Linked DNA regions of Homo sapiens: region 1 is linked to region 2. Evidence: fine-mapped expression QTL. Tissue or cell type: testis. Region 2 holds a variant in brackets; the other region holds the start of a gene. All regions are shown on one strand. Distances are from middle to middle.

Region 1 (15,830 bases), 22 kb before region 2:
GAGGCTGAGGCAGGAGAATCACTTGAACCCAGGAGGTGGAGGTTGCAGTGAGCCGAGATCTTGCCACTGCACTCCAGCCTGGGCGACAGAGCGAGACTCCGTCTCAAAAACAAAAGCAACCACAACAAAAGAAAGCCCCTCAGTTTGGGTTTGTCTGATGTACTTTCTCAGCAGTAGACTGAGGTTTTGGGTTTGGGAAGGATTTCACAGAGGTGGGGTGCTCTTTGAGTCACCTCTTATCAGAGCTGTGGGGCATCCGTGCGATCACCTGGCGACGCTCACCTGGTCACCTGGCCAAGGTGGTGCCTGCCAGTCGCCTCCTCGGCCAAGTTCCTCTTTGCCTGTCTTGACTCCGCTCTTTGGAAAGGAGTCCCTAGACCCAGTCCTCACTCATGGTGTGTGCATAGGGGTAATCTCTGCTCTCGGAACCTACAGGTATTACTGGGAATTCTTTTGTAGGGGAGGTTGGTGTCTTTCTTGCATTTAATTGTTCTTATTTTTTATATCAGCACGCGCTCCAGCTTGGGGTCATAAGCCAGCACTATATGATTCTGCTGTTCTCCTCTCTGGCCCTCCTGCCCCCTGTCATCCCACCATGGCCAGGAGCTCAGCTTGCCTTTTCCTGCTCTGCCCCAGCACCAGCCATGTCCCCAAGGGGCCCATTCCCAGTTCCTTTTTATCTCAGAAGAGCTCGTTTATGAATTTGCTGACCTGTCACCGACTCTCCACTCTTGCAATACAAGGGGTTTTTTCTGGCTCTCCAGACCTAGCACGTCCTGGCACGCGGTAGGTGCCATGATCCGTGAATGCTACCCTGCAAGTGAGTGAGTGAGTGAATGAGGCTGAGGCAACAGGCTGGCCTTGTGCAGGGCTGGGGCCTCTCCATATCCACCAAGGGAACCCCAGCAGCCCCCCTCTGGTGGAAGGGGACGGGCCACAGCCACCTCCCTTCTCTCTCCTTCCCAGGCCCCAGCACCGGAGGTGGGACCAGGTGACCCTGGAGAGTCCTTCCCCTCACTGTTCCCCAAGTAGGGAGATTCCTGGTACACCATAGGTGCAAACCTTCCTCCAGGGCCAGCCCGACTGACAGGCTGACATGGCCCCCCGTGCCTGCTCCACTATGTCCCATCCTGGAAGGCGGACTGCCCAGTGACAGCTCCTGGAGGGGACACCAGGGAGAGCCAGGTGTCCATTTCACCTGCAGTGGCTATCTGCAGAGCCATCACCCGCCTCTGCAACGCGAGCCCTCAGAGGCCAGGGGCCCCTGGGGAGCAGCTGTGTCCCTTCAGCCGGGACTGAGGCCCCGGCCCCCATCACCTCCTGGTGCTGACCGGCTGGTCCAGAGCCTGGGATGGAATTACAGCCCCAGGTCTGACCCGCAAGGGCAGCCGTGCCTCCCCTAGGCCTGGTGAGCCAACTTGCAGGCACCCGCTGTGTTTGAGGGATACGGTCTAGCGGGCTGGGGGATATGGAGGGGGGTCCTATGTTGGAGGTGGGGATCAGGGACCACTGGGATGAATGCAGAGAGAAAGCTCCAAGGAGGGAAGGGGCAGCAAGGCCAGGGCTGGGACTGAGAAGCCACACGTTGGAACTTAAAGGGACTCAGGCCGGCCCCGGGTGCCAGGTGGTGAAGCAGGAGGGAGTCCAGGATGGCCTGGGACAGCTGAGGCCTGGGAGCTGGTTCCACCCTGAGCTGTGCAAGGCTGGTAGGGAGGGGCCCGTTCCCCCCAACATGGCTGGGAGGACCCTCCCGGGGTCTGTGGTTAGGCCAAGCTGTTCACAGACCCTCTGAGGGAAGGTCCAGCTCCGCCCTGCAGCTCCCAGGGCCTGCTCCAGCTGCGCTCTGGTTGCCTTCCCACCCCTGCGCTGGGCCTGACGTGGCCCCTGGCACTGAGGATGGGCTGCCCTGCCTTCTCCCCTGCCCCTGCCCCTGCCCTGCCCGCGCTCTCCCTGCCCTGCCCGCACTCTCCCTGCCCCTGCCCTGCCCGCGCTCTCCCTGCCCCTGCCCGCTCCCCTGCCCTGCCCGCGCTCTCCCTGCCCCTGCTCTGCCCGCGCTCTCCCTGCCCCCTCCCCTGCCCTCGCTCTCCCTGCCCCTGCCCTCTCCCCTGCCCTCTCCCCTGCCCTGCCTGCGCTCTCCCTGCCCCTGCCTTCTCCCCTGCCCCTGCCCTGCCCGCGCTCTCCCTGCCCCTGCCCTCTCCCTGCCCCTGCCCTGCCCACGCTCTCCCCTGCCCCTGCCCTGCCCACGCTCTCCCTGCCCCTGCCCTCTCCCCTGCCCTGCCCGCGCTCTCCCTGCCCCTGCCCTCTCCCCTGCCCTGCCTGCGCTCTCCCTGCCCCTGCCTTCTCCCCTGCCCCTGCCCTGCCCGCGCTCTCCCTGCCCCTGCCCTCTCCCCTGCCCTGCCCGCGCTCTCCCCTGCCCCTGCCCTGCCCACGCTCTCCCTGCCCCTGCCCTCTCCCCTGCCCTGCCCGCGCTCTCCCTGCCCCTGCCCTCTCCCCTGCCCTGCCCGCGCTCTCCCTGCCCCTGCCCTCTCCCCTGCCCTGCCCGCGCTCTCCCTGCCCCTGCCCTCTCCCCTGCCCTGCCCGCGCTCTCCCTGCCCCTTGCCTTCTGTCTGCTGGGGCCTCAGGTCTCAGACCTTCAGTGCAGTGCCTCCCCCGCCCCATCCCATCCCATTAGGGACACGGCAGGTGTGGCCTGGCCTCTGTCCCAGGGAAGGTCTGGAATGCAGATCCCTGGTGTGGTGGCCTGGAGTGGTGGTGGGAGCCAGGGCTCAGGAAGGGAGGGGGCTGGCAGTTGGCAGCAGCATTTTGGAAGGACGATTGGGGGTGAGCAGGCGCTTGGAATGGAGACCGGTCGACAGTTGGCTGTGGCAGCTGGAGCGGCAGTTGGGGCTTGGCAGGGGCGCAGGCCCGGAGGACAGTTGGGGTGGGGCAGCCGTGGGGTTGGCAGGTAGCCCCTGGCCCCAGAGCAGCTCTGGAGGGTGGTCCTGGGGAGGCCTGGGTGGGAGGGCAGGGCCAGCTGGCACTGGACCTGGCCAAGCCAAGCCCGAGAGGAGGCCCACCTCTATCCAGCCTCGACAAGGCCACCTCCCCCAGCCCGTGGGTGGGGCTCTCCTGCAGCCCACGGCCGGCCTCCAGTCCACCCGCAGGACCCAGGATGACGTGTGGTGGGCGGCTCCCTGGACAGCCCCAGCATCCTCAGGCTGGTGGCGGGCCTCTCTCCCCGCCCTGCCCTCTGCCTCTCCCTCTGTCTGGGCTCCCAGCAGAGGCCTGGAGAGGGCAGGGACAGGTTCTGGGCAGTTCCCTGGGAGGGGGCAGGACTCCCAGGGCTGTTGCCATGGGGACGACTGAGCAACACCACTGGCTGGTGAATAAACAGGCAGGTTCCCTGACCAGTGACTGAGACAAAGACAACCACAGAAATCCCAGCTGGGGGTGGACAAGGAAATGCCTCCTTGGGAGAAGAGGGGGTGGCAGTAAAGGCCCTGGCGAGGTTGGGGAGCTGCTTGGGGGGGGGTGGGGACACAGACAGGAAGGGGTATCTTGTTCCTCGGGAATTTTCTTTCCCAAAGCTCCTCCCAGGCCATCCTTCCTGAGGATGAGAGGCAGATCCCTACTCTCTTGGTGGTGTCAGAGCACCTGGAATGGGGCTGGGTCCCCTCCCAGATCCCCATCCCCTAGAAGCCACACAGTGAGGGTGGAGGGCAGGTGGCCGGCTGGCAGGGTAAGTGGTGCAGGGAGTCTGTGAACACAGGTCTGCGGAGAGGCCATAAGCGCGAGGCTGTGCCAGGACCCTCGGGGGGCCCTGCCAGCCAGATGGCTCTCCATTTGTGTCTCTGGTTGAGTTTTCCCAGGGGTTTGTGGGGGGCACGTCCCTCAGCAGGTACATCCGTGGGGCTGCCCAGCCTCTGCACCTTGCCCTGAGCCCCCCGTCCTCCAGAACTCCTGGCCTGCTGCCGCTCATCCCTCATAGGCCTCAGGGTCCCTTGGACAGGCTCCCAACGTGCTCACCCAGATGGCTGGGGGTGACTTTCAGGAATGACCACGTAATGCAGCGTGGACAAGTGTGCCCTACAGAGACCTGACCTTTTGTTCACCTGTCTTGTTCACCCACTTGGCGAGGTCAGGGACCATGTCCAGTTCATCATGTCACCCTCAGGGGCCCCACCCTCTGGACCCTCCCAGACACCCATGTGCTGGCCTCCCAGCCCTGATCCCAATGCTGCTGAGGCCACACTTCACATTCTCTGTTCCCAGAGCTGCCTCCCAGCCGGCTGTCAGGCGGCAGATCCCTCCTTGCATCTGTGGCCCCCAGGCCTGGTGTGCGTCACCTGCACAAGTGTCCCGGGGCCCTAGGAAGAGGGGGCACCGCGGCCCAGCCTGGCATCCCCCCGTCTCATGTCTAATCCCAGCAGCAGCTCAGTAGATGCTGGGCTCCAACAAACCTGAGGTTCCTGGGCCACGGGGCCAGCATGCCCGTCGGAGCAGACACTCCACGTGGCTGTAGGAGTCCAACTACTCCACCCTCCTCGTCCTCCCAGTTCGGCTGAGAGGCTGCAGCTGCTGCTGCTGGTTTTTGTTTGTTTTTCTTTTAAATAGTAATGGGGTTTATCAGCTCTTGGAATAACGGTCTGTAGGACTTAATCAGGGCGCTGTCTCTGAGACCGGTCTTGGTTCTTCCTTTTTGACATACTGTCTTCGTCTCCAGGCTGCTTGACCTTCTGTTGGTTCTTGGAGCAGAAAAGTCAGGAGTCTCTGTCCCGTCACTGGCAGTGTTGCCGAGGGGGAAGCGGGGAGGAGTGGGGCTCCCAGGTGAGAGGGGGCCCAGAGCCTCATCCGCCCCGTTCATTCTAGAACTCAGCACGTTTCTTTTTTTTTCTTTTTTGAGACAGAGTCTTGCTCTGTCGCCCAGGCTGGAGTGCAGCGGCACGAACTTGGCTCACTGCAAGCTCCACCTCCCGGGTTGACGCCATTCTCCTGCCTCAGCCTCCCGAGTAGCTGGGACTACAGGCACCTGCCACCACGCCTGGCTAATTTTTTGTATTTTTAGTAGAGACGGGGTTTCACCGTGTTAGCCAGGATGGTCTCGATCTCCTGACCTCGTGATCCGCCTGCCTCGGCCTCCCAAAGTGCTGGGATTACAGGCGTGAGACACCGCGCCCGGCCCTCAGCAAGTTTCTACCAAGACAGGCAGCCCTAACCTGGCAGGTGGGGTTGGCCTGGGTCGTGGTGAGATCAAGGTTTGGTTCTTATGGGCAGGCCTCCTAAGCGATGACTGAGTGCCACTGTGTGTTCCGCCAGGCAGCTGCTGCTGCTCTCCATCCCTGCATGGACAACGGACATGGCAAACCATCAACACTGCTCTCCTTGGAGGCTGTCTAGGGAGGTCCAGACATCTTGGGAGAGACTGGGGTTCTCTTTTGCGCAAGAGAGCATGGGCAGGCTCTGCGGGAGGCCCTTGGGGCAGGCATCAGGGCTCTGGTCCTCCTTGCTTTGGCTCGGTGGGCCCGAGCTCTCCTGTCTCCCCAGGCCTCCTTTCCTCCGTGGGGTACAACTGGGCTCTGGGTGGGCAGGTGGGGGCTCCTGCAGGCAGTGCTGTTTTCTCCAAGGGGGATGCACGTGACCCGCCAGACCCTCCTGGAAGCCGCCTCTTCTCAGGGTGGTTGTGCTCAGCCCCCACTTCCCGAAGGTCGGTGAGGCTGGGGCTACAGTTTCAGACCAGAGCAGGCAGTGCCACCGAGAGGGTGCCGCGCGAGGTAGGCCGGCGACGGGGCTTCCTGGGCCGCAGTGCCATCCCGGCGACCTTGGCGAGGGGATGGGAACGGGGTGTCCGCACAGCCATTTCCAGGCGCCCGCGACGGCAGTAAGGGAGTGTCCCAGGCGTTGGTCCCGGCAGCCACACCTCGCTTCGCCTTTGCTCACTCATGGAGAGCCCTCAGCCGCCTCCCACTGCCGCTCCTGAATGCGCCTCACACATCCAGATTTGAAAGCACCCATAGGGCCGCCGCCTCCCACCTCCCGAGGAATCCGCTGCGCTGGGCCCGCAGGGAGGCAGGCTGGACGGCCCGGGCGCCTCCCCATTGGTTGGCCGGGCCGGGCTCGACTCCCTCGCGCGGCTGCCGGCCACAGGCTCACCTCCCTTCCCGCCGCGCCCGGGGAGAGGAAGCGAGGTGGCCTTTACCCCTGCGCAGGCCGGCCAGGAATGCGGGGCCGCGCTTCCCACTCTACCCGCCCGAGGGCTGAGGACGGCGGAGGCGAGAAGCGACGCGCAGAGTCCGGGCGCCGAGTGGTGGAGACGCGTCCCAGGCCGTTCGGATCGGGGCTGCACACGGGCTGGGGCGAGGCCCGGGCCGCTGGTTCCCGCCCCCTCCCGGAGCCATTCGTCCCCCGCAGACAACACGACGGGAGGGACCCACGCGCGGCCGCCGGTGCCCCTAGTCAGCCAAAAGCGAGCCCCACTGGCGGGCACCCCCACGAGGCCTGCGCCCGAGGTGCGCCGATCTCCGGGTGCGCCGAGGCCCCCGAGGGTAGGCGCGCGCGGTGCCCAGGCCCTTCCAGACCCCGCACCCCGGGCGGCCTTCCTTGGGGGCGCCTTTTCCGCACCGCGAGCGGCCCGCGTTGATGCCCGGCCGGGCTGGGGGAGTCGCCAAGTTTGCGAGACGCGCGCAGTGCAACCGCGCGTCAGGCGCGGGGACGGCCGGTGACCTGGGCACCCGCGCGCCCCCGAGGAACCTGCGCGTGGGCAGCGCCCGGTGCGCGGCCCGGGAAGGGAGCGGGTGCCCTCGCCGGGGTCGCCGCTCCCGTGGGGTGTTTCCAGGCTGCTCCGCGCTCGCGGGGCAAGGGCGCAGCGGGGGCCAGGGGGACCCCCGCGCCGCGCCGCCCCAGCCCCCCGCCAGCCCAGGGGAGGGGGCTTCCCACAATGCCCAGCGAGCTCCAGCCCGCACTTCCGCTGTCCGGCTGCCCGCGGGGGGGAGAACGGACCCCCGGCGCGGCCCCCTGCGACCCCGCGGCGCGGCGCCGGGAGCCGAGCGAGGGGCGGGGCCGGCGGCCGGGCCGGCGTGGGCGGGGCCCGGGGCGGTGGCCGCGGCCGGGGCGCGGCGCGGGCCAATCAGCGGCGGCCGGGCGCGCGCCGGGGGGCGGGGTCAGGGTCCGCGGGCGGGGCGCGCGCGCGCGGGCGGCGGGGGCCGCGGGGTTGGAGCGGGCGCGGGGGCGCGCGCCGGCCTGACGGACCGACGGACGGACGGACGGACCGAGCAGCCCCGGCGAGCGCGCAGCTCGGACCCGCCCGGACGCAGCGCCCTCCCGGCGGCGGCGGCGATCACCGGCGCCGGCCCGGCGGCCGCGGCGCCCGCCCTCGCCCGCGCCCCATGGGGTCACAGGTAAGCGGCGCCGGCTCATTGTCCGCGCGGCCGGGCGGGCGCATCGCGGCGGGGGCCGGGCCCGGAGCCGGGAGCCGGGAGCCGGGGCCGCTGCGAGCCCGGGCGCGCCCCCGCCGCCGGCCGCCCCGCCACGCCCCGCCCCGCGGGGGCGCCCTCCCGGGGGCCATCGGCGCTCCCAGCTGCGGCGCGGGCTCCGGGGGCGGCGGCGGAGACCCCGGCCCGGCCCCCGCGGGTGCCCCCCAGGCCGGCGGCGCGGGGCGGGGCGCGCGGGGGCGGCGCGGGTTCCCCGCGGGGCTGAGCGCGGAGGCGGCTGGGCTGCCCCGGCCCCTCGGCCCCCGGCACCTCCCGCCGCCGCCGCGCTCCCTCCCCGGCACCTCCGAGAGGGGAATTTTCCAGCTGGTAATTTCTGCTGCGTCAACGCCTGGCCCCGAGGCAGCCCGGGGGCGTCTTGGCGCCCCCCGCCCGCGCCCCCCGCCGGCACAGCCCAGCCGCACCCGGAGCCGCCCGCGCCGAGTTTGCCAAGAGTCGGAACTGCGGGAGGTGGGCGCGGGCGGGTCCCGGCGCCCTGAGGCCGGGGGGTCATTGTCTCCCCGGACGCCGGGCGCCGGCCTGGTCTCCATCTTAATCGCCGGCCGAACCGGGGCGCAGGGGCCTCGGGGCGGGGCGGCTCGGGGCGCGGAGGGCTCGGGGCGCGCGGGGCGGACGGGGCGCGCGGAGGAAGCGGGGTCCGCTGCGAGCCGCGTCTTTGTTTCTCTGTAAATAGACATGTCAGTTTCGCGGGGGAGCGCGAGCCGGTGTCTGACAACTCAATCCCTAAGGCAAACGGGGAATTCTCTGCGCCAGAGGGAGGGCTCCTGCTAGTTGGGGTTCCCCTGGCCCCGCTGACAGATTCACTGTTTGTAGGTTTAACGAAGCACACACAATAGGGCTGGACCGAGGAGCCAGGGTACAGACCAGATGGGGCGAAGAACGGATATTTTCTGACAGCGAAGAAATATAAACAAAAGAAAGTTTGAGATTCGCAGCGAATTTCCTCTCTCGCTTTCCGTGCTGCAATCTCAACGATGCATTTGGAGTGGATTACGGTGGCAAGATTGTGATCAGCATTGTTTAAAGAAATGCTAATTAGAAACGTGTTTAGCGCGCGGCCTGGGCGCAGACACCTGTGCGCCGAGAACTCACGGGCATTTTAATTGTATCGATTGTAGAATCTTTCATATTGGCTCTATTATCAGAGCTAACTTCCCGTTTGGGTAACAGACTGGATACATCTCTGCTGCTGGCACTCACGCTGCCTCTGCAAGGCACTATTTCACTCTACAAGAGTGGAAAATAGTTTGTTCATCAAAAGGAAATGTATAGAAGGGGTTTTTCACATGAATAATGAAGCAAGCGACAGTATTTATCAGAGTAGAACCTTTCTGCTCGGTGTGTTTTACGTGTTTCCAACTGGCACTTTTGGGCACCTCAGCCTGGTTACCACTGCAGAAAGGACTGAGGAGTGAGGGGAGTACTTGGGCACAAGTTACTGCAAATTTAGGTGGGAACTTACTGTGTCCCCTAAAAAGCTAGACATCTTCTCCGTAACTGAAGGAAGAGGGCTGGGGAGTTACTGTCAGATTTCTCCTTGGGGCGTGGAATGCACTCACTTTGAGGTGTTTAGAAATCCGAAATTCCGCCTTGCCTTCAGGCCAGCCTGGGGACAAGCATTTAATTAAGCCTCTCACTGACAGCATTATCCTGAACGTGAGAGTTTTCTTTTGCTTAGATGAGGTGATTTCTGTTCGGGTTTAGCTGTTTTGTGTGAGGATGAGTCGTTCTGTGCTCAGACCTGAGTTCCACTCCTGTTTCGGATGTTCGGGTTGGGTGGACTGTTACCTAAGGGCCCCCAGGTCAGTTCCACCAGGGCCAGGCTGACCCAGTGCCCTGCGTCCTCCGTCCCTCCCCAGCCCCTGGTGGTCACAGAGGTCAGGAGGTAAACCCTGTGAACGGTGAAACTGCTCCAAGGATTTAGAGGAAATGCCGTGGGGGGTACACAGTTGTTATTGTCAGACGATGTACTATTTACAAACACTGAATTAAATTTTAGCAGAGTGAACTTTCCAACACTGCCCTGACGTGGGGTTTTTAAATTAAGGGAAATTGGGCCACTCTGTCCCTGTGGCCTGTGTTTCTGGGACAGCGGTGCAGCTCCAGTGCTCTGTTCTCCATCAGAGGTCTTAGCCCGGCCTCTCAGAGCCCTGGAGACCCACTTCGTGCACGGTGCCTAGACGGCTCCACAGCCTGAGAACTGGAGCCGGTTCCTCCCACTGCCGTGACTGGTGCCCAGGCACCCGCTCCACTGCTGAGTTAAAGTGAGAGGAAAGGTCTAGAAGTCCTTGCCCCTTCCCATCCGCACACCCAGTGTCACGGCGTCTGCCGTGGTAGGTTCCCTGTCCTGGGGACTTCGTGTTCTTGCCTAAGTACCGTTCTTGTAAAAACTCAGGCTGCTGCTTCTCCCTGGGCTTTGCATGTTTTACCTGGAAGTCTCATGAGTGACCTTGAGTGATGGTTGATACTTCCCTCTACTGGTTTTTCTAGCAGATTTAAAAAAAAAAATACCCTTTGAATCTGTCCCCTCCCCTGGGGGAAAAATTCATCTTGTTGCTGCTAAGTTTGCTTGAATGGCCTGACTCCTAAGAATAAATGTTTGATTCAAAATCTCTATTAAGGCCACAGACTTATTCAGGGCTTTGAGAGGCCGCCGCCTTATCCTGATTGTGGTCCTCTTGCCGTCTGCCGCGGCTGCGGCGTAGCTGTGAACTTGTGCGGAGTGCTGGGGTCTTAGGCCATGGGGTCCATGGGAGGGATTTTCCTGCTTTTCTGTTATCACTTAGACCCTTTGAGTGCCTCACATATACAGACCCAGGCTTGGTGTTCTGGTTTGCTGGTGATGACAAAGGGCCCCAATGGTGTTGTTTATAGATGGAAAAGAGAAAGGATGTTTTTTAACAACCTAAAAGTGGTTCTGAGGCTGGGCGTGGTGGCTCACGCCTGTAATCCCAGTGCTTTGGGAGGCTGAGGCGGGCGGGCCGCTTGAGGCCAGGAGTTTGAGGCTGTAATGAACTATGATTGTGCCACTGGACTCCAGCCTGGGCAACAGAGCGAGGCCTTGTCTCTAAAACAATAAAATTAAGTAATAAATAAACAAATAAAACATTGTCCTGTTAAAGCATAAAAACAAATGAAACCAGTGAAATTTGACCTAAGTATGATTTATGCAAAGTGTTCTGTTGAATGGTTCTGTTGCATAGTTGAGTATCAGCAGTGCCGTTTTACTCTAATTTACAATTTAAAATTATTAAATGCTTCTAAACATCATTATCTGGATTAAAAATTTGCTACCATAGCTATTTTACAATAGAAAGTTGAGAAACATTAGTGTATTTTTCAAAAGCATTTGCAGATCTTTTGTGGTTTTTTTTTTTTGTTTTTTTTTTTTTGAGACGGAGTCTCGCTCTGTCGCCCAGGCCGGACTGCGGACTGCAGTGGCGCAATCTCGGCTCACTGCAAGCTCCGCTTCCCGGGTTCACGCCATTCTCCTGCCTCAGCCTCCCGAGTAGCTGGGACTACAGGCGCCCGCCACCGCGCCCGGCTAATTTTTTTGTATTTTTAGTAGAGACGGGGTTTCACCTTGTTAGCCAGGATGGTCTCGATCTCCTGACCTCATGATCCACCCGCCTCGGCCTCCCAAAGTGCTGGGATTACAGGCGTGAGCCACCGCGCCCGGCCATCTTTTGTGTTTTGACAGATGGGCTTTTGCGTCTTACCGGAGACACTCGGGGTTTCCTATTCATGACAGCTCTTTGGTGTTACTGAGGGCCTGCTGTGGACCAGACTTTGGGCCAGGTTGGTGACAAAGTTCCCACGGAGGTGGGTTGGGGGCACGCAGAAACCACTGATGTGACCCAGTGTGGTGGCTGGCAGAGGCTGGCAAGAAACGGCCCAAGGCTGGGAGGAGGGTGCCTGGACTGCTGTGTGGACTGCTGTGGGGACTGCTGTGGGGAGTGGCACCGGAGCCCAAAGGTGACTCGAGGGAAGGGAGTCCACTCGGAGATCCACCCGCACGGTTCCAGACCTGGCAGTCATCCGGTCCTGGTGGAGCGAGTCATATTCCAAACCCTGCTTCCCGGAGAGTGGATTGCTGGCCGGAGGGCAGGGCCACTGTACGTAGGAGGCAGCTTTTGGGAGCTGGTCAGCTGTGGGGGTAGGCATGAGGAGCAGTTGAGTTTCACGTTGTACCTTCTGAAGACTTGGTTCAGCACACATAATGCCTTCCCAAGGACACTCGCTGTCTTTTTGGAAAAGTCATCCGTGAAGCATTTCTTTTTTTGAGAGGGAGTCTCGCTCTGTCGCGCAGGCTGGAGTGCAGCGGCGCGATGTCGGCTCACTGCAAGCTCCACCTTCCGGGTTCACCCCATTCTCCTGCCTCAGCCTCCGGAGTAGCTGGGACTACAGGCGTCTGCCAACATGCCCGGCTAATTTTTTTTTTTTTTTTAAGTAGAGATGGGGTTTCACCATGTTAGCCAGGATGGTCTCGATCTCCTGACCTCATGATTCACCCGCCTCGGCCTCCCAAAGTGCTGGGATTACAGGCATGAGCCACCGTGCCCAGCCAAAGCATTTCTTCTCTGGGCCTGTCATTGTCGGCCCAGGTGTCGCCCCCGGGCTCCTCTTGGTTTCTCTTTGAGCATCTCTGACTTACTAGCGACTCAGTCCTTCTCAGTTTCCCCCAAAATGGAAAAGAGCCACATATGTGTGTGAACAATCAGTTTCTAAAAATGTCTTCATTTATCTGAAAGTCGGGCAGCATTGCTGCTTGCATGGGACACACAGATACTTTGTTTGTAAGACATTTTCGTTTACAAAAGTGCATCACATCATCTCTTCCAACCACTCTGAAGAAAATGAAGAAAATGAAGCCTCTTGCACAGAAAGCCTTCCCATTCGCTGGCATATCGCTGCACACGAGGCCTGCGTCGGTGCTCCTCTGTGGAGATGTGGAGAGGGGCACTGCTGTGCCTTGGGCTACGTGCAGAGGGCTTAGGAACTCCCGGTGTTGACAGCTGCCTTTGTGAGAGGTGGACACACCTGGACCGCGTGGCCCACGTTACTCTGGGCAAGTCGTCTTCTTAGTGTGGGTCACCCGCCGGATGGACAGAGGCTTTGCTTATCTGCTGGGGCATGGGGAGCAAAACTATGGCTCTTAACTGGGCAGAAGAACGAGAAGTCGGCCCAAGCTAAGCATTACCTGTCGCAGTGTTGATTCGCCGCTTTCCCAACTGACTTCCCTGAAAGAATCCCACAAAAAGTCACAGAGATTAGAAGCTTCTGAGTTATGAAGAAACTCGAAGGCCTGGTTGTTGATTTCTGGGCTGTGGAGGGGCACATCCAGACACACAGGCTTTCTAGAAACACACTCATAATCCACTCATTGGCCATAGCCAGCCGCTTTGCAGAGGCTGAGAAGTGGAGCAAGGCTGTTCTGGTTGGAGGAACAGCAAGTGCAGGGATAGAACCAGAAAACAGAGTTGTTGACACAAAGTGCCCAGGGCTGTTTGTGCAGCATGGGGACAACTGGCCCTGGGAAGCCGGGAGGGAGGGGTTTGATGGTAGTGAGATGGTGGGCGGGAGGGAGGGTTTTTTTTTTTTTTTTTGAGACGGAGTCTTGTTCTGTCCCCCAGGCTGGAGTGCAGTGACGAGATCTCGGCTCATTACAACCTCTGCCTCCCGGGTTCAAGCGAATCTCCTGCCTTGGCCTCCCTAGAAGCTGGGATTATGGGCATCCGCCACCACGCCCGGCTAATTTTTGTATTTTTAGTAGAGATGGGGTTTCATCATGTTGGCCAGGCTGGTCTTGAACTCCTGACCTCAAGTGATCCGCCTGCCTCGGTCTCCCAAAGTGCTGGGATTACAGGCATGAGCTACTGCACCCAGCCAGGAAGGGTTTGATGATGGTGAGATGGGGGTGCAGTGATGGGAAGATGGGGGAGGGAGGGTTTGATGACGGTGAGACGGGGGTGCAGTGATGGGAAGATGGGGGAGGGAGGGTTTGATGACGGTGAGACGGGGGTGCAGTGATGGGAAGATGGGGGAGGGAGGGTTTGATGACGGTGAGACGGGGGTGCAGTGATGGGAAGATGGGGGAGGGAGGGTTTGATGACGGTGAGACGGGGGTGCAGTGATGGGAAGATGGGGGAGGGAGGGTTTGATGACGGTGAGACGGGGGTGCAGTGATGGGAAGATGGGGGAGGGAGGGTTTGATGACGGTGAGATGGGGGTGCAGTGATGGGAAGATGGGGGAGGGAGGGTTTGATGACGGTGAGATGGGGGTGCAGTGATGGGAAGATGGGGGAGGGAGGGTTTGATGACGGTGAGATGGGGGTGCAGTGATGGAAACATCACCTCTCAGAGCACCCAGAAGAACGGGGGTGGGGGAAGGCGGTAAGTGTTCCTTGGCCACGTGAAATTTTGGGTGGGATTAGAACCTCTGAGTTGTCCTGCAGACCCTGAGCTTTCAGGAAAAAGGGCGTGGTTCAGGGCTTTTGTGGCAACCGCCAAGTGAGTTTTTCTGATATTTGCTAAATTAGCTTTCAAGACAACATGGTCTGTAGTCTTTCTTGTCTTGGTGTGGCCCTATTTGAATAAAATGGGTGTTCTCTTTCCATGCCATTTAAATTATTGAATCTGGTGAATGGCAGTATCCTTTTATTTGGCAAGTTCAAAGCCAGCTTAGGTATTTTCGAAAGAAGTAGAGATTATTCAGCTCCTTTAGGGGTGGAGGACAGACTGGCTGAAGAAGGCACTTGTTTGTCCAGGTCCAGCCCCATTTCTTCCTCCTCCCATTTCAGTGTGGAATCTGCAGACCCACAAGACTCGGAATTTCCCATGCTTCAGGGAGGCCGGCTGCTCAACCTCGAAGGTGGCCCTGATGCTTAGGTGGGACGTGTCTGCTTGTTACCCATTCAAGGAAACAGAGGACTTTGGCCAGCGACCCTGCCCTGAGCCTCTGGTCTCTAAAGAAGCCTTGATTCGCCTACAGCCTCCTCTCTGCACTCAAAATCTCCACTTCTCAAGTGTAATCTGGTCGTTTACGTTAGTCCTGTGGGGAGCCCATTCAACGGTTTACATTTCCTTTTACAAACAGAAAACGGAGCAGTCCCAAAGAACACACACACACACACACACACACACACACAAGGTTCCTAGAGGACAAAGGTCAGGACAGGAATCAGGACAGAGGAAAAGGAATTGGAAGACACCACAACGAGAAAACTTGTTCTGGGAAGTGTGTGGTCAGGGATGCAGTGTGACGTGGATATTGTCCTTTTTTCTGGTCTGAATTATTTAATTTTTTTTTGAGAAGGGGCCTCGTTCTGTTGCCCAGGCTGGAGTGCAGTGGCACAGTCATGGCTCACTGCGGCCTCGACCTGGGCTAAGGTGATCCTCCCACCTCTGCCTCCTGAGTACCTGGGACTACAAGCACGCACCACCACACCCGGCCAATTTTTTTATTTTTGTTTTATTTTTATTTTATCTTATTTATTTATTTATTTTTTTGAGACAGGGTCTCACTCTGTCGCTAAGGCTGGAATGCAGTGGCGTGATCTTGGCTCACTGCAACCTCTGCTTCCTGGGCTCAAGTGATTCTTGTGCCTCAGTCTCCTGAGTAGCTAGGATTATAGGCGTGTGCCACCACACCCTGCTAATTTTTGTACTTTTTTTAGTAGAGACCAGGTTTTGCCATGTTGCCCACGCTGGTCTTGAACTCCTGAGCGCGAGTGCACCCCCATCTGCCCACCTGGAACCCCCAAAGTACCGGGATGACAGTGAGCCACTGTGCCTGGCCTTTTGTTCCCATTTTTATTTTTATTTTATGTATGTATTTTTGAGGTGGAGTCTCGCTCTGTCGCTCAGGCTGGAGTGCAGTGGTGCAGTTTTGGCTCACTGCAATCTCCACCTCTCGGTTTCAAGTGATTCTCCTGCTGCCTCAGCCTCCTGAGTAACTGGGATCACAGGTGCGCGCCACCATGCCCAGCTAATTTTTTTTTTAAGTTTTAGTACAGACGGGGTTTGTCCATGTTGCCCAGGCTGGTCTCGAACTCCTGAGCTTAAGTGATCCACCCGTCTCGGCTTCCCAAAGTGCTAGGATGACAGGTGTGTGCCACCGCTCCCGACTTTTTGTTTCCATTTTTAAAACATGTTTTGTACAGACAGGGTCTCGCTGTGTTGCCCAGGCTGGTCTCAAACTCCTGGGCTCAAGCATTCATCCTGCCTCAGCCTCCCAAAGTGCTGGGACGACAGGTGTGAGCCATAGCACCTGGCCCGTGGTCTGGAATTCCGAGACTCACTGTAGGCTTCACTCTCATGTTTTCGTGCTTGCCGGGTTGGCCGTGTCCTGTGCTCGCCGTGTGGTCA
Region 2 (15,830 bases):
TATTTGCAAAGACCCTATTTCCAAATAAGGTCACGTTTGCAGGTTTAGGACTTCAGCAGACACATTTCAGCCCTTAACAGCATCACAGCTTGGGTTTTCTTGATGCATCTTTCACACGTATTTCTCTATGGAGGCTTCTCCACACATCAGCAGCTGCTACCTCTCGTGGCCACTGTATCCTTGACGCTGCTGTTATTTACAGCAGAGGTGGCAAGTAACCAGCGTCACCAAAATATTAACTAATGCATTCAGCCAGTGTGCACGCAGCCCTGGGCCTGTGGCAGGTCAGGTTCCTGGCCTGGGTACACAGCAGGTCATGGAGTCCTTGCTTTGCTGGGTTATGCAGATGGGGGAGATGCTTTGAGTATCTTGGGTGATGTGAGCCTGTGAGGAGAGACACGGGGTGGGTGGGGAGGGAGTCATGTTGAGGGTGAGCAGAGATGGAGCCAAGAGGGGCAGCTGAGTGTTGCGGCTGCTTGTGCCTCCCAATCCGAAGCAGGACTCGGGCCCTCCTCTGGGCACCCCCTTTGCCTTGCTCACTGCACCTGTGCCCACTGCATCTGTGCCCACCGCACCTGCACCCACTGCACCTGCACCCACTGCACCTGCGCCCACCTGCGCCCACTGCACCTGCGCCCACTGCACCTGTGCCCACCTGTGCCCACTGCACCTGCGCCCACCGCACCTGCACCCACCGCACCTGTGCCCACCTGCGCCCACTGCACCTGTGCCCACCTGTGCCCACTGCACCTGCGCCCACTGTACCTGCACCCACTGCACCTGTGCCCACTGTACCTGCACCCACTGCACCTGTGCCCACCTGTGTCCACTGTACCTGTGCCCACTGCACCTGCACCCACTGGACCTGCGCCCACCTGCACCTGCACTCACTGCACCTGTGCTCACCTGCACTCACTGCACCTATGCCCATCTGTACCCACTGCACCTGCACCTTCTGCACTTGTGCCCACCTGTACCCACTGCACCTGTGCTCACCTGCACCTACTGCACCTGCACCCACTCGACCTGCGCCCACCTGCACCTGCACTCACTGCACCTATGCCCACCTGCACTCACTGCACCTATGCCCACCTGTACCCACTGCACCTGCACCTTCTGCACCTGTGCCCACCTGCACCCACTGCACCTGTGCTCACCTGCACCTGTGCCCATCTGCACCCACTGCACCTGCACCCACTGGACCTGTGCCCACCTGCACCTGCACTCACTGCACCTGTGCCCACCTGCACTCACTGCACCTATGCCCACCTGTACCCACTGCACCTGTGCTCACCTGCACCTGTGCCCACCTGCACCCACTGCACCTTTGCCCACTGCACCTGCACTCACTGCACCTGTGCCCACCTGTACCCACTGCACCTGCACCTACTGCACCTATGCCCACCTGCACCTGTGCCCATCTGCACCCACTGCACCTTTGCCCACTGCACCTGCACTCACTGCACCGGTGCCCACCTGCACCCACTGCACCTGCACCCATTGCACTCACTGCACTTGCACTCGTGCCCACTGCACCTGCGCCCACTGCACCTGGGCCCACTGCACCTGTGCCTTCAGCTCAGACTTGGGCTCTCGGCCTTTTGTGTCTTCTCAGCAGCTGGTGAGCTGTGGCCCCTTTTCAGAATAGCATGTTTTGTTTGTTTATTTTGAGACAGGGTCTTGCTCTGTCATCCAGGCTGGAGTGTAGTGGCGCAATCTCAGCTCACTGCAGCCTCGACGTCCTGGGCTCAAGCGATCCTTGTGCCTCAGCTTCCTGAGTAGCTGGGACCCCAGGCATGTGAGACCATGATCAGCTCACAATAGCATTTTTAGTGCATCCAGTAAGATCCCTGGAAAATGAAGGGTAGCAACTACTGAAATATCATTGCTAAAATTCAGGAAAGTTTGATTTGTGAGGTAGTAACATGTGGAACTTTAATTTAGCACATAGCATTGTGAATGGTGCATCTGATATTCCTAATTCCGAAGTAGGGTGAGTATCGAGCATTCTAAGTTGCCTGCGGTGGCCATGGTGCGATGTGGACATGGCTGTGTCTGTGGCTTGTCACCCACAGTCAGACTCCTGAGGCCCAGGCTTGCTGCACTCCTCTGGGAGGTCAACCCCAAATGAGGACCCTTGCCTGGGGGTGGGAGGAGGCAGGTCTTGGGGTTCTCTCCCCCTGCAGAGGCAGGTCTTGGGCCTCCTGTTGAGGGGTGGGGCTGCCTGTGGGTTTCCAGATGAGATTCTCTCTCACCGCATTTGCACCGCTGGATTGTATATTTTCCCAGTTTTGTAAAAGTTATATTATTATTTTAAAACCTAATTATATTTTTAAAAACTTATTTTGGAACTTTTCAAACATACACAAAATTAGAGAGAACGTCCACGTCGCCTGGCTGCGGGAACCCCCAGTGCTCTGCTCTTGTCTTACTCATCTCTCCCACTCTCTCCCACTGTTTTTTCTTTTTCCTTTCTTTTTTTCTTTTCTTTTTTTTTTTTTTTTGAGACGGAGTCTTGCTTTGTTGCCCAGGCTGGAGTGCAGTGGCGTGATCTCGGCTCACTGCAAGCTCTGCCTCCCGGGTTCATGCCATTCTCCTGCCTCAGCCTCCCTAGTAGTTGGGACTACAGGCGCCCACTGCCATGCCCGGCTAATTTTTGTATTTTTAATAGAGACAGGGTTTCACGATGTTAGCCAGGATGGTTTTGATCTCCTGACCTTGTGATCCACCCGCCTCGGTCTCCCAAAGTGCTGGGATTACAGGCGTGAGCCACCGCGCCCGGCCCTTCCCACTGTTTTTTCTCTCAAGTGTTTTAAAGCAAATCTCAGTTTTACCCTCGGTGCTTCGTTGTGTGTGGCTCACACGCAGCCGGGCACCCCGCAACACTTCCTCAGCGTCGCGATGCTGGGCTGGGCTCAGCGTTCTTGACTGTGGCCTGCACATTTTCACTGTGGCTTTACTTGAATCAGAGTTGGGATGAGGGCCATGTGCTGCTTGTGGGTGGTGATGTCCCTGAAGTTGCGTTTCTTCTCTCTGTTTCATGCTACTTATTTGCTGAAGGATCAGTTTTGGTTCTGTGACACTTCCTACCTGAAGGTCTGGCTGGGTGCATCCTTGTGACCTTGAACTCCTGCCTGAGCCGTCAGTAGAACCAGGTAGAGGCGGGAGGGCTGGGACTCGCCCGCGCAGGGCAGTGGCAGGGGAGCAGTTACTCTGGTGTGTAGCCACAATGCTTACATTGGAATTTCCAACTTAATGTATTTTATTTATTTATTTATTTTTTTTTTTTGAGATGGAGTCTTGCTCTGTCTCCAGGCTGGAGTATAGTGGCACAGTCTCAGCTCACTATAACCTCTGCCTCCTGGGTTCAAGTGATTCTCCTGCCTCAGCCTCCCGAATAGCTGGGATTACAGGCGCGCTCCACCACACCCGGCTAATTTTTGTATTTTTAGTAGAGACGAGGTTTCACCATGTTGGCCAGGCTGGTCTCGAACTCCTGACCTCAGATGATCCACCCGCCTCAGCCTCCCAAAGTGCTGGGATTACAGGTGTGAGCCACCGTGCCTGGCCCCAACTTAATGTATTTTAAAACACGGGTTGTTTCATATTTTGATGCCTGTTTTTGTTTTGTTTTGTTTTTTTGAGACGGAGTCTCACTCTCACCAGGCTGGAGTATAGTGGTGCGATCTCGGCTCACTGCAACCTCCGCCTTCCGTGTTCAAGCAATTCTGCTGCCTCAGCCTTCCAAGTAGCTGGGACTACAGGCACGCGCCATCACACCCAGCTAATATTTTTCTCTATTTTTAGTAAAGACGGGGTTTCACCATGTTGGTCGGGATGCTGTCAATGTCTTGACCTCATGATCCACCTGCCTTGGCCTCTCAAAGTATTGGGATTACAGGCATTAGCCACCACGCCCAGCCGTAGTTTTTGTTTTGTTTTGTTTTGTTTTTTGTTTTGAGATGGAGTCTGGCTCTGTCACCAGGCTGGAGTGCAGTGGGGTGGTCTTGGCTCATGGCAACCCCCACCTCCCGGGTTCAAGTGATTCTCCCGCCTCAGCCTCCCGAGTAGTTGGGATTACAGGCGCCTGCCACCACACCCAGCTAATTTTTTGTATTTCTTTTACTAGGGACGGGGTTTCCACATGTTGACCAGGCTGGTCTTGAACTCCTGACCTTGTGATTCGCCCGCCTCCACCTCCCAAAGCACTGGGATTATAGGCGCGCACCACATTGCCTGGCTAATTTTTTGTATTTTAGTAGAGACGGGGTTTTACCATGTTGGCCAGGCTGGTCTCGAACTCCTGACCTCGTGATTCGCCCGCCTCCGCCTCCCAAAGTGCTGGGATTACAGGTGCACACCACATTGCCCGGCTAATTTTTTGTATTTTTAGTAGAGACGGGGTTTCACTATGTTAGCCAGGATGGTCTTGATCTCCTGACCTCGTGATCTGCCCGCCTCAGCCTCCCAAAGTGCTGGGATCACAGGCCTGAGCCTCCTTGCCTGGCCTTGTGAAAAATTTTAATGTTAATTTTCTTATTTCAAGTTGATTTTCATTTAGTTTTTACTAAAAATGCAAATGTAGTTTACCGTTGCTTCTCTTTTTTTTATGTAGGAAAAGTTGATGCAAATTTTGCCTGAATTTGGAGTTTTCCTATTAGTGAGAGTTTTGTTCCGAAAAGATCGCCGCCACTTTGGTGGGTCAGCACTAAAGCCTTGTTTCAATATCTGCAGGGTCAGTTCTTTTGAATATTTTAATGCTTCCACGTTTGGAGTCTAAGAGCTATTTTTACTTTAGTTTTTTTTCCCAGGCAAGTACTTGGTCTGAACGATGTATGAGCCAGACCTGGCAGAAAAGTGGGAGTTGGTGAAATAGATGTGCTACTTAGTGACAGGGACTGTGATTCTAACATTTTGTCTTATGGCAGAGTTGGATGAAAGGGGTTTGTTCCTGCACCATGGCTCACCTGCCCAGTGAGTCCTGAGTCCTCATGTGGCAGGGAGTCAGACAGCAGCAGCTCTCTTCCCAGCGGGGTAGAGCTCACCTGGCTGCAAGGTGAGCCGGCTGGCCCGTCGCCCAGCTCAGAGCTGACCCTCACACGTGCAGATCTCTGCTGGGCCCAGGGGTCAGGGTCAGTTGTCTGCGTCACCTATGGGCCACCCCCTCTCTGCACCCCCGAGATCTTCCTGCTCTCTGCGTTGCCTATGGCTATGAGCACAGTGGGCTTCCTGGAAATACTTTCAGAGGAGGTGACAGTCGTATCCTTCCAGGGCCCCTCCTGCCCTGTGGAAGAACTTACTTCTGCTCCTGGAAGTCAGAAGCTGGGAGGCCTGGGGCTGTAGTGTCTTCTGTATGAGAGGTGGGGTGGGGCTGGGGAGAGGAAGGCTGCTTGACTCTTCTTCAGGGAGACCCACCCCATGGCAGCTCCGAGGTCCTAGTGGGCTGGTGGCTCGCATCTTGTCCACCTGTTGTCGTCTCTTGCCCCTAGGGGGGCTCATGCCCATCCTGTGGGGTTCTGGGACCCAGACTCGCCCCTGTGGGCTGGGCGGGGTGGGGCTCATGCCCATTCTGTGGGGTTCTGGGACCCAGACTCGCCTCTGTGGGCTGGGCGGGGTGGGGCTCATGCCCATCCTGTGGGGTTCTGGGACCCAGAGAGGCAGACTCTTCGCCTGCCTGTTGGGTTTGTGAAAAGTCAAAGAGAGTGGAACACGGACGCCGGCTGGTGCTCTCCAGTGTTCTCCGGCTCTGCCGCTGGAGCTCCTCGTAGGAGTGAGGAAAGAGAGTGGAGCCTGGACGCCAGCTGGTGCTCTCCGGCTCTGCTGCTGGAGCTCCTCGTAGGAGTGAGGAAAGAGAAACGTAGATTGCTCTCATGTTCGCGCTCTGTTCACCTCCTGGGTGCTGATTTCCTGTGGCGTCATCCTACCCTGCATCTGTGCTGGTGGGCACGTTCTCGCGTTTGTGTTTTATTTTTATTTATTTTTTTGTTTTTTGAGACAGAGTCTCACTCTGTTGCCCAGACTGGAGTGCAGTGGCACAATTTTGGCTCACTGTAACCTCTGCCTCCCATGTTCAAACGATTCTCCTGCCTCTGCCTCCCTAGTAGCTGGGATTATAGGTGCGTGCCACCACGCCCAGCTAATTTTAATATTTTTAGTAAAGACAGAGTTTCGTTATGTAGGCCAGGACGGTCTCAAACTCCTGATCTCATATGATCCACCTGTCTCAGCCTCCCAAAGTGCTAGGATTACATTTGTGTTTTATGAATAAGGACCTTGGTTTGCGAGGGGAAGGGGGGTTTTGGTGCCTATCCTGAGTGTGGTCGGTGTGTGTGAGCTTGTGCAGACACGACCAGCTGGGCTTTCTGTTCTCATTTCTTCCCGTTAATTTCTGATAAACTTCTAAGCATCCACGTGACTGGCATTTTTAATGTTCCTGGAATTGGGTTTTGCTCAGTTTTAATACTTGACGGTTTTCTGGGCCATCTTCGAA[T/A]TGTCGAGTGTTTGGGTCTTTTTCTGTTTGTCACTGTTAGCCATAGCAGTGCTTGGAACATCTTGGAACCAATTAGCTTTTTGGGTTATTTCCTTGGGGCAGAGTCTCAGAAGTGGAATTAGTCAAAGAGGCAGAGGCATCTGTAGGCCTCATCCCCACGCTGCAGGCTGCTTCAAGGGCCGCCCCACTCTGGGCCTCCTGTGTCACGGCCACCTTTGTAATTGACATTACGTTAATGTTTGCCAGTTCCATGTATTTAGAGTTTTCTTTTCTTTTTTTTTTTTTGAGAGAGGGCCTTGCTGTGTCACCCATGCCGGAGTACAGTGGTGCCATCTTGGCTCACTCCAACCTCGACCTCCCGACTCAAGGGATCCTCCCACTTCATCCTCCAGAGTCGCGGGGACTACAGGTGTGCACCACCATGCCCGGCTAATTTTTTCTATTTTTTGTAGAGATGGGGTCTCACCATGTTGCCCAGGCTGGTCTTGAACTTTTGGGCTCAAGCCATCTGCTCGCCCCGGCTTCCCTCAGCGTTGGGATTTCAGGCATGAGCCACCATTCTGGCCTGGCCTTGAAATCTTTTCTCAGAGTTAAGCACGTGTCTTTTAAGTCCTTTCCAGAAATCTTTAAAATTGTATCATTGAGTTAAGCCACACTGGCCACCACACGGCTAACTTCGTAAGGGAGAAGAGGGGAGAGGAAGGGAGGTCGCGGAGCTCCTGCTGTCTCCCGGAGTCCTCTCCACCTGCTGGGCTCTGGCAGGTTTGCTGAGGACCGCGTGAGGGCGCTGCTGTCTTCTGGGCTCAGGGCTCCTGTGAGCTCCTGAGGCCTGGACCCAGGGGTGGCCTTTGTTGCTCCCTTGGGCATAATATGGGGGGACACAGGCAAGATGTGGGGCCACCACCCCAGCAGGCCTGTGCCGAACCCCAGGACCCCATTCCTGGAATAGACGCGGCCATGAGGACTGGACGCGCTGGGCGTGGCCCACGGCGGGGCCCCCAGGGCTGCGCCCCCAGGGCTGCTGACCTTGCCCCCCTTGGCTCCACCGAGTCTGCACCTTTAGTGCCCACTTCGGCCAAGCCCATGGCGAAGTGCCCCAGGCGCTGCGGTCCCTGCGAAGGGGAACGTGGAAGGCGAACGTGGAGAGCCCCTTGAGTGCCTCTGCAGCACCGGAGCACCGAGCCGCCAGCTCCCAGGTCTTACCTCATGAATCATGGAGTTTTCTTTCTTTTTTTTTTTTCTTTTTCTTTTTTTTTTTTTTTTTTTTTTTGAAGCGGAGTCTCGCTCTGCCGCCCAGGCTGGAGTGCAGTGGCGCCATCTCGGCTCACCGCAAGCTCCGCCCCCCGGGTTCCCGCCATTCTCCTGCCTCAGCCTCCCGAGTAGCTGGGACTGCAGGCGCCCCCACCACGCCCGGCTAATTTTTTTTTGTATTTTTTAGTAGAGACGGGGTTTCACCATGTTAGCCAGGATGGTCTTGATCTCCTGACCTCACCATCCGCCCGCCTCGGCCTCCCAAAGTGCTGGGATTACAGGCGTGAGCCACCGCGCCTGCTGGTTTTATTTCTTAAGGCGGCCTTGGCGCCTGTCCTGGCCGAGCGCTGGACCGAGGAGGGCCTTCTCTGGGGGAGGCTCTGTCCGCCTCCCACCCACGCTGGAGGAGCTCAGGTCTCATGGGGAGGCAGGACTCGCTTAGGGGCGGGAGGTCACACTGCCCCGGAGCCCAGGCCCTGCCCTAGGAGGAAGAGCCTGGCTTCCCCCTTCCCTCCCGCCGGGCCCGGGGCTGAGACTCCTTGTGGGTCCGGATGACCCTGTCCGTGACCTCCGCCCTGGCCCCGCTTCCGCCCCACGCCCCCCTGAAGCCCCGGGCTCCGTGGCGTCTGCCTTCCGGGCCCTCCCCTGCGCTCAGCCCCCGGGGCAAGGGCTGGGAAGGATGGCTTGACTGGCCTACAGGGTACAGGGGACCCCTGACAGGTTCATCGCTGGGGCCCCATGGGCCCCCCCTCCGTCTGTGCCGTGCGGATGTGGAGACTGAGGACTCCTCCATCGAAGGCGGCCGGTGGTGAAATCCAGTAATCTGGGTGGGGTCCTTACCGCGCTGTCCGCGGGGTTTCCTCACTGCTCAGGCGGCTGCTGCTCATCCACGCCACCTCCGTCGGTCCGTTCAGCTTCCGTGAGTGTCCCCTGTGGGAAGGTCCGTTCAGCTTCCGTGAGTGTCCCCTGTGGGAAGGTCCGTTCAGCTTCCGTGAGTGTCCCCTGTGGGAAGGTCCGTTCAGCTTCCGTGAGTGTCTCCTGTGGGAAGGTCCGTTCAGCTTCCGTGAGTGTCCCCTGTGGGAAGGGCCTGTGCCGCACAAGGTGGGGACTTGGGCACACGGCCTCGGAGGCCAGACACCGGGCGAGCCCCGCTCTGGGAGTGAGACCCGCTCGGAGGGGGAGCGAGCCCTGAGGCGCCGCCTGTAAGCCAGACCCGCTGCCTCACACAGACGGGTGCTTCGCTTGTTTTGGCCTAGTACAGCTTTTAAGCAAAAAGTAACTGGTTAGGGATTCTATCATATTGCTTGATGTAAACAAATGCGGCAAAATGTTAAAAAATGGAGTAGCTGAAGGCCGGGCGCGGTGGCTCACACCTGTAGTCCCAACACTTTGGGAGGCCGAGGCGGGCAGATTGCTTGAGGCCAGGAGTTCGAGACCAGCCTGGCCAACATGGTGAAACCCCGTTCCTACTAAAAATGCAAAAATTAGCCAGGTATGCTGGCGTGCGCCTGTAGTCCGAGATACTGGGGAGGCTGAGGTGGGAGAATCACTCGAACTCGGGAGGTAGAAGTTGCAGTGAGCCAAGATGGCGCCACTGCACTCCAGCCTGGGTGACAGAGCGAGACCAAACTGACTCAAGAAGAAACAGAAAATCTGAATAGACCTATAACAAATAAAGAATCAGTAGTCAAAAAACTTCCAATGAAAGAAAAGTTCAGAAACTTTCACTACAGTTATTGTACTTTTTAGCTTCCAAAAAGAAAAGTCAATTTCAATAAAGAAATTGAATCAATAGTCAATAAACTTCCAACAAAAGAAAAGTCCATCTCTGTCTCTCTCTATATATGTATATGATTGTATATATCACTTCACTGTTGAATTCTATCAAACATTTTAAGAATTAACACCAATCCTGGCCAGGCGTGGTGGCTCACGCCTGTAATCCCAGCACTTTGGGAGGCCGAGGCAGGTGCATCATGAGGTCAGGAGATCGCGACTATCCTGGCTAACACGGTGAAACCCCGTCTCTACTAAAAATACAAAAAATTAGCCGGGTGTGGTGGCGGGCGCTGGTAGTCCCAGCTACTCAGGAGGCTGAGGCAGGAGAATGGCGTGAACCTGGGAGGCGGAGCTTGCAGTGAGCCGAGATGGCGCCACTGCACTCCATCCTGGCCGACAGAGCGAGACTCCATCTCAAAAAAAAAAACCAAAACAAAACAATTAGCTGGGCGTGGTGGTGGGCGCCTGTAGTCCCAGCTACATGGGAGGCTGAGGCAGGAGAATCGCTTGAACGTGGGAGGTGGAGGTTTTAGTGAGCCAAGGTCGCACCGTTGCACTCCAGCCTGGGTGACAGAGCCAGATTCCATCTCAAAAAAAGAGAAAGATTCCATCATATTCCTTGAGAGCATAGTGTTGCCTTTATTTTAAGCAGGTATTACAACCTTCTTATTTAGGTTCTATTTTTTTTGAAGTTACCATTTCAGGTCAGAGTTAGCCATAGCAGTATCTCAGATTTAAAATGTACACAAATAGTTTTCTTGCCTTGTTAAGCTGATTAGCTTTCTTTTCTTTCTTTTTTTTTTTTTTTTGAGATGGAGTTTCACTGTTGTTGCCTGGGCTGGAGTGCAGTGATATGTTCTCGGCTCACTGCAACCTCTGCCTCTCGGGTTCAAGCAATTTTCCTGCATCAGCCTCCCGAGTAGCTGGGATTACAGGCACCCGTCACCATGCCAGGCTAATTTTTTTTTTTAACTTTTAGTAGAGACGGGGTTTCACTATGTTGGCCAGGTTGGTCTCGAACTCCTGACCTCAGGTGATCCGCTCGTCTCAGCCTCCCAAAATGCTGGGATTACAGGCGTGAGCCACCTTTCCCAGCCAGCTGATTAGCTTTCTGAGAAAATTATAATATTTTTAAAAGTTGGGGCCGGGCATGGTGGCTCATGCGTGTAATCCCAGCACTTTGGGAGGCGGAGGCGGGTAGAGCACCTGAGGTCAGGAGTTCGAGACCAACCTGGCCAACATGGTGAAACCCTGTCTGTACTAAAAATACAAAAAAATTATCCGGGTGTGGTGGCACACACCTATAATCCCAGCTACTGGGGAGGCCGAGGCACGAGAATCACTTGAACCCAGGAGGCGGAGGTTGCAGTGAGCCGAAGGCTTCAGTGAGCCGAGATCGTGCCACTGCCCTCCAGCCTGGGCGACAGAGCGAGACTCCGTCTCAAAAAAAAGGAAAAAAAAAAAAAAGCTGATGCATGGCTTTGTGTATTAGTTTCCTGGGGCTGCTGTGAAAGTACCACCTGCTGGGCAGCTCGCGGCAGCAGAGGTGTCTCCTCTCAGTTCCAGAGTCCAGCGCTGGAACTCAGGGTGTCTCAGGGCCATGCTCCCTCTGGAGACTCCAGGCAGGGTCCTTCCTGCCTCTTCCAGCTCCTGGTGGCTCCAGGCATCCTTTGGCTTGTGACTTTGTCACTCCAGTTTCTGCCTGTGGTCACATGACCTTCTCTCCTCCCTGTGTCTTTTTTTTTCCTTTAGAGATGGGGGTCTTGCTCTGTCACTCCAGCTAGAGCACAGTGGTGCAATCGGAGCTCACTGACTGCAGCCTGCAACTCCTGGGCTCAAGTGATTCTGCCGCCTCAGCCTCTCAACGTGCTGCGATTAGAGGTGTGTACCACACTGCCCGGCTGCTGTTTCATTTTACCTTCTATCAGCACTTAGTATGAGACATTTTTGAAATACTGTAAATCAGTATTACAGATTTAATTTTCAAAAGGTACTGTAGGTCGGGCGTGGTGGCTCATGCCTGTAATCCCAGCACTTTGGGAGGCCGAGGTGGGCGGATCACGAGGTCAAGAGATCGAGACCATCCTGGCCAACGTGGTGAAACCCCGTCTCTACTAAAAATACAAAAATTAGCCAGGCATGGTGGTGTGAGCCTGTAATGTCAGCTACTCAGGAGGCTGAGGCAGGAGAATCAATTGAACCCGGGAGGTGGAGGTTGCAGTGAGCTGAGATCGTGTCACTGCACTCCAACCTGGCAACAGAGCGAGACTCCTTCTGAGAAAAAAAAAAAAAAGTCATGTAGGTTTTTTTTGTTGTTGTTTTTTTGAGACGGAGTCTCACTATGTTGCCCAGGCTGGAGTGCAGTGGTGCCAACTCAGCTCACTGCAACCTCCGCCTCCCAGGTTATAGCGATTCTCCTGCCTCAGCCTCCCGAGTAGCTGGGACTACAGGCGCCCCCCACCACGCCTGGCTAATTTTTTTAATTTTGGTAGAGACGGGGTTTCACCATGTTGGCCAGGCTGGTCTCGATCTCTTGACCTGGTGATCCACCTGCCTTGGCCTCCCAAAGTGCTGGGATTACAGGCGTGAGCCACCGTGCCCGGCCTGGTACTGTAGTTTTGTTGACCCCAAGTGTATGTGTTGGGCCTGTCCAGCATTGAGATGTGGTCCCTGGGCTGAGAGGAGGGCAGGGCAGTGTCAGGCAGCGAGGTGGCATGTGTGCTGTCAGTGTAAGAACAGTGACGCCCGGGAGGGCTTCCTGGAGGAGGGGGAGGCTGTGTCCATTGGCTGAGAGGGCTCAGGACTGCTGTTGTGATTCATGGCAGGATTCGCCTTTACAGATCTGACCTGTTCCACTGTGTCATCTATAACCCAAATGACAGACTAGGAGCTCAGCTGCCCCGGCCCCCTCCTGGGTGCCCAGAGCACCTTGTGCCCATCTGGAGGCACCCCTGCCACCCTCACACATGGCCCGAGCCAGGCACTGCTCCAGGCTTCCCCTGCGTGTGACTGGTGGGCACCTGGCTGGAGCTGGAGGGATGCTGAGGCCTGGAGCTGCTGAGGTGGGAGTGGAAGCCCCTCCATTCAGGGACCCCACAGCCCACCGAGACCCTGGTGGCTGGGGCTGAGATGGGACAGCGCAGGGCAGTGAGAGGTGTTTGGAAAGGGGAAGCGTGCTGGGCTCTGGCTGGGGACGCCCGACAGAAGGAAGTGACGTTATGTCGGTGCAGTGGCTCACGCCTATCATCCCAGCGCTTTGAGAAGCCAGGGCGGCAGGTTCGTTTAGGAATTCAAGACCAACCTGGGCAACACGACAGAACCCCGTCTCTACAAAACAAAAAAATTAGCCCGTGTGGTGGCGTGCCCCTGTGGTCCCAGCTGCTCAGGAGGCTGATGTGGGAGGATGCCTTGAGCCTGGGAGGTTGAGGCTGCAGTGAGCCGAGATTGCGCCACTGCACTCCAGCCTGGGGGACAGAGTGAGACCCCATTACAAAAACAAAAAGAAGGAAGTGACGGTAGCCAGGTTCGGGAAGGCGGAGGAGGCGGCCTGGGCGTCAGAGCCGGGCTGGAGATGAAGGAACTGAAAGGGGCCAGTGGGCAGGGAGGGGCGGGGCTGGCAGGGCCTCCGACAGAGACCTGGGCAGCCCGGGGCCTGGGCAGCCCGGGGCCGGCAGACATGGCTTTGCATCTTCAGATGGCCACATGGGGGCTGCCATGTGGAAAACCTAAAGTCCTCATCGCCAGCACCCACTTGCTCACTGGAGATGATGTGGATAGTACCACCGGTCTCGCTGTCGAAAGACGACTCTGCTAACATGTCTTGGAGTGTTTTCTAGTCAGGAGCTCACTTAAAAATTTTGAAATGCGACCACGAACAATGGTAATATGATGTATATGAAATTTAATTTGTACGACAGTTTCACAGTATTCATGTCTTAACCTTAATTTTTTCAGAAGAAGGTAAACCATGAACGCCTTGGTGTGAGGGGAGGTGCCTGGTTCCTGCTGGTGAGGCGCCCTGGGGGATGGTGCCCACACTGGTCCCTGCCTGGATGGCATCCTGGGGGATGGTGCCCACGCCTGGTTCCTGCTGGTGAGGTGCCCTGGGGGAGCCGGGTTGGTGGGTTTCTTCGCAAGAGTGGGCAGAGCTGCCCAGAAACGTGTTTCCTCCTGTTGGCGTCTGTGGCATCGCGCTCTTTGGTGGTAGAAACGGGGCGTCAGTGACCTGGGGCTGCCATGTCAAAGGGCCACAAAGGGAACGTCGTAAACAACAGACATCTGTTCCCTCCAGTCCTGGAGGCCGGAGGTCTGAGGTTTGGGCATCAGCCCGCCGCGGTTCCTGGGAGGGTGCTGGGGGCCTGAGGTTCGGTCGTCGGCCGCGGCGGTTCCTGGGAGGGTGCTGGGGGCCTGAGGTTCGGTCGTCGGCCACGGCGGTTCCTGGGAGGGTGCTGGGGGCCTGAGGTTCGGTTGTCGGCCCACCGCGGTTCCTGGGAGGGTGCTGGGGGCCTGAGGTTCGGTCGTCGGCCGCGGCGGTTCCTGGGAGGGTGCTGGGGGTCTGAGGTTCGGTTGTCGGCCCACCGCGGTTCCTGGGAGGGTGCTGGGGGTCTGAGGTTCGGTTGTCGGCCCGCCGCGGTTTCTGGGAGGGTGCTGGGGGTCTGCTCCAGGCCTCTCTCCAGCCTCTTGCCGGGGCCTCCGCCGCTGCCGCTTTGTGCCGACCTGTGTCCAAATTTCTTCCCCTTTTAAGGGTACTTATCATACTGGATTAGGGGCCCCCAGTAACCTCATTGTTTTTTTTTTGAGAGGGTCTCATTCTGTCACTCAGGCTGGAGTGCAGTGGCGCAATCTCAGCTCACTGCAGCCTCCGTCTCCCGGTTCAAGTGATTCTTGTGCCTCAGCCTCCTGAGTAGCTGGGATTACAGACGTGCGCCACCACACCCGGCTAATATTTGTATTTTTAGTAGAGACGGGGGTTTACCATGTTGGCCAGGCTAGTCTCAAACTCCTGGCCTCAAGCAATCTGCCTGCCTCTGCCTCCCAAAGTGCTGGGATTACAGGTGTGAGCCATCGTGTCCAGCCCCAGCGACCTCATCTTAATTAATTGCATCTGCAATGACCTATTTCCAAATAAGGTGGAATTCTGAAATATGAGGGGTTAGGGCTTCAACATGAATTTGGGAGGCGGGGGCGGGGGGTTCAACCCGTAACAAATGGCAGTGAGGTCCTTGGATAAGCACAGGATTATAGCTGAGGAAAAATATTTTTACAAAAACTAATCCTTTATTGAGGCATAATTTACGTGCAGCAAACAGCACTTGTTTAACGAGCATAATCTGATGAGCTCGAACTCTTGGGTGGAGCTGCCGGTGGCTTTGGAGACACAGGCCGTCCCCATTGTGTCTGGAATTGGTGGGTTCTTGGTCTCACTGACTTCAAGAATGAAGCCATGGACTCTCGCGGTGAGTGTTACAGTTCTTAAAGGCGGCGTGTCTGGAGTTTGTTCCTTCTGATGTTCAGACGTGTTTGGAGTTTCTTCCTTCTGGTGGGTTCGTGGTCTTGGCTGGCTTCAGGAGTGAAGCTGCAGACCTTCACGGTGAGTCTTACAGCTCATAAAGACAGTGTGGACCCAAAGAGTGAGCAGCAGCAAGATTTATTGCAAAGAGCAAAAGAACAACACTTTCAATGTATGAAAGGGGACCCCAGCAAGTTGCCACTGCTGGTTGGGGCAGCCTGCTCTTATTCCCTTACCTGGCCCCACCCACATCTTGCTGATTGGTCCATTTTACAGAGAGCTGATTGGTCTGTTTTAGAGAGAGCTGATTGGCCCATTTTGACAGGGTGCTGATTGGTGCGTTGACAATCCTTGAGCTAGACACAAAAGTTCTCCAAGTCTTCACTAGATAGCTAGACACAGAGCACTGATTGGTGCATTCACAAACCTTGAGCTGGATACAGGGCGCTGATTGGTGTGTTCACAAACCTTGAGCCAGATACAGAGTGCTGATTGGTGTATTTACAATCCCTCAGCTAGACATAAAGGTTCTCTAAGTCCCCACCGGATCAGCTAGACACAGAGCACTGATTGGTGCATTTACAAACCTTGAGCTAGACACAGGGTACTGATTGGTGCATTTACAAACCTTGAGCTAGACACAGAGTGCTGATTGGTGTATCTACAATCCCTTAGCTAGACATAAAGGTTCTCCAAGTCCCCACCAGACTCAGGAGCCCAGCTGTCTTCACCGAGTGGATCCGGCACTGGGGCTGCAGGTGGAGCTGCCTGCCAGTCCCGCTCTGTGCACCTGCACTCCTC

Which allele goes with the higher level. Positions count from the first base shown, and alleles are read on the strand shown. Sizes are in standard deviations (SD) of each study's normalised expression.
For the expression in testis of the gene that starts at base 7,206 in region 1, A is the high allele of the variant in region 2 and T is the other (small effect, 0.32 SD a copy in GTEx).

What was found. PIP is the estimated chance that this variant, and not a neighbour inherited with it, causes the effect.
Region 1: ZBTB46 starts here. The variant in region 2 is the best candidate, but not a certain one, in a credible set for the expression of ZBTB46 in testis (GTEx, PIP 0.66).

The regions. Positions count from the first base shown.
Region 1 is chr20:63,822,640-63,838,469 of GRCh38, reverse strand. ZBTB46 (zinc finger and BTB domain containing 46) reads left to right here and starts at 7,206. Exons shown (of 5, transcript NM_001369741.1): 1 at 7,206-7,373. ZBTB46-AS1 (ZBTB46 antisense RNA 1) reads right to left here. Exons shown (of 3, transcript NR_110081.1): 3 at 15,455-15,830. RefSeq lists silencers at 3,140-3,434, 7,049-7,188 and enhancers at 3,140-3,434, 8,771-9,462.
Region 2 is chr20:63,800,907-63,816,736 of GRCh38, reverse strand. All of the region lies in intron 1 of ZBTB46 (zinc finger and BTB domain containing 46), which reads left to right. ZBTB46-AS1 (ZBTB46 antisense RNA 1) reads right to left here and starts at 8,661. Exons shown (of 3, transcript NR_110081.1): 1 at 8,582-8,661. RefSeq lists enhancers at 221-971, 972-1,722, 14,052-14,553. The variant T/A (reference allele first, on the strand shown) is at 6,491.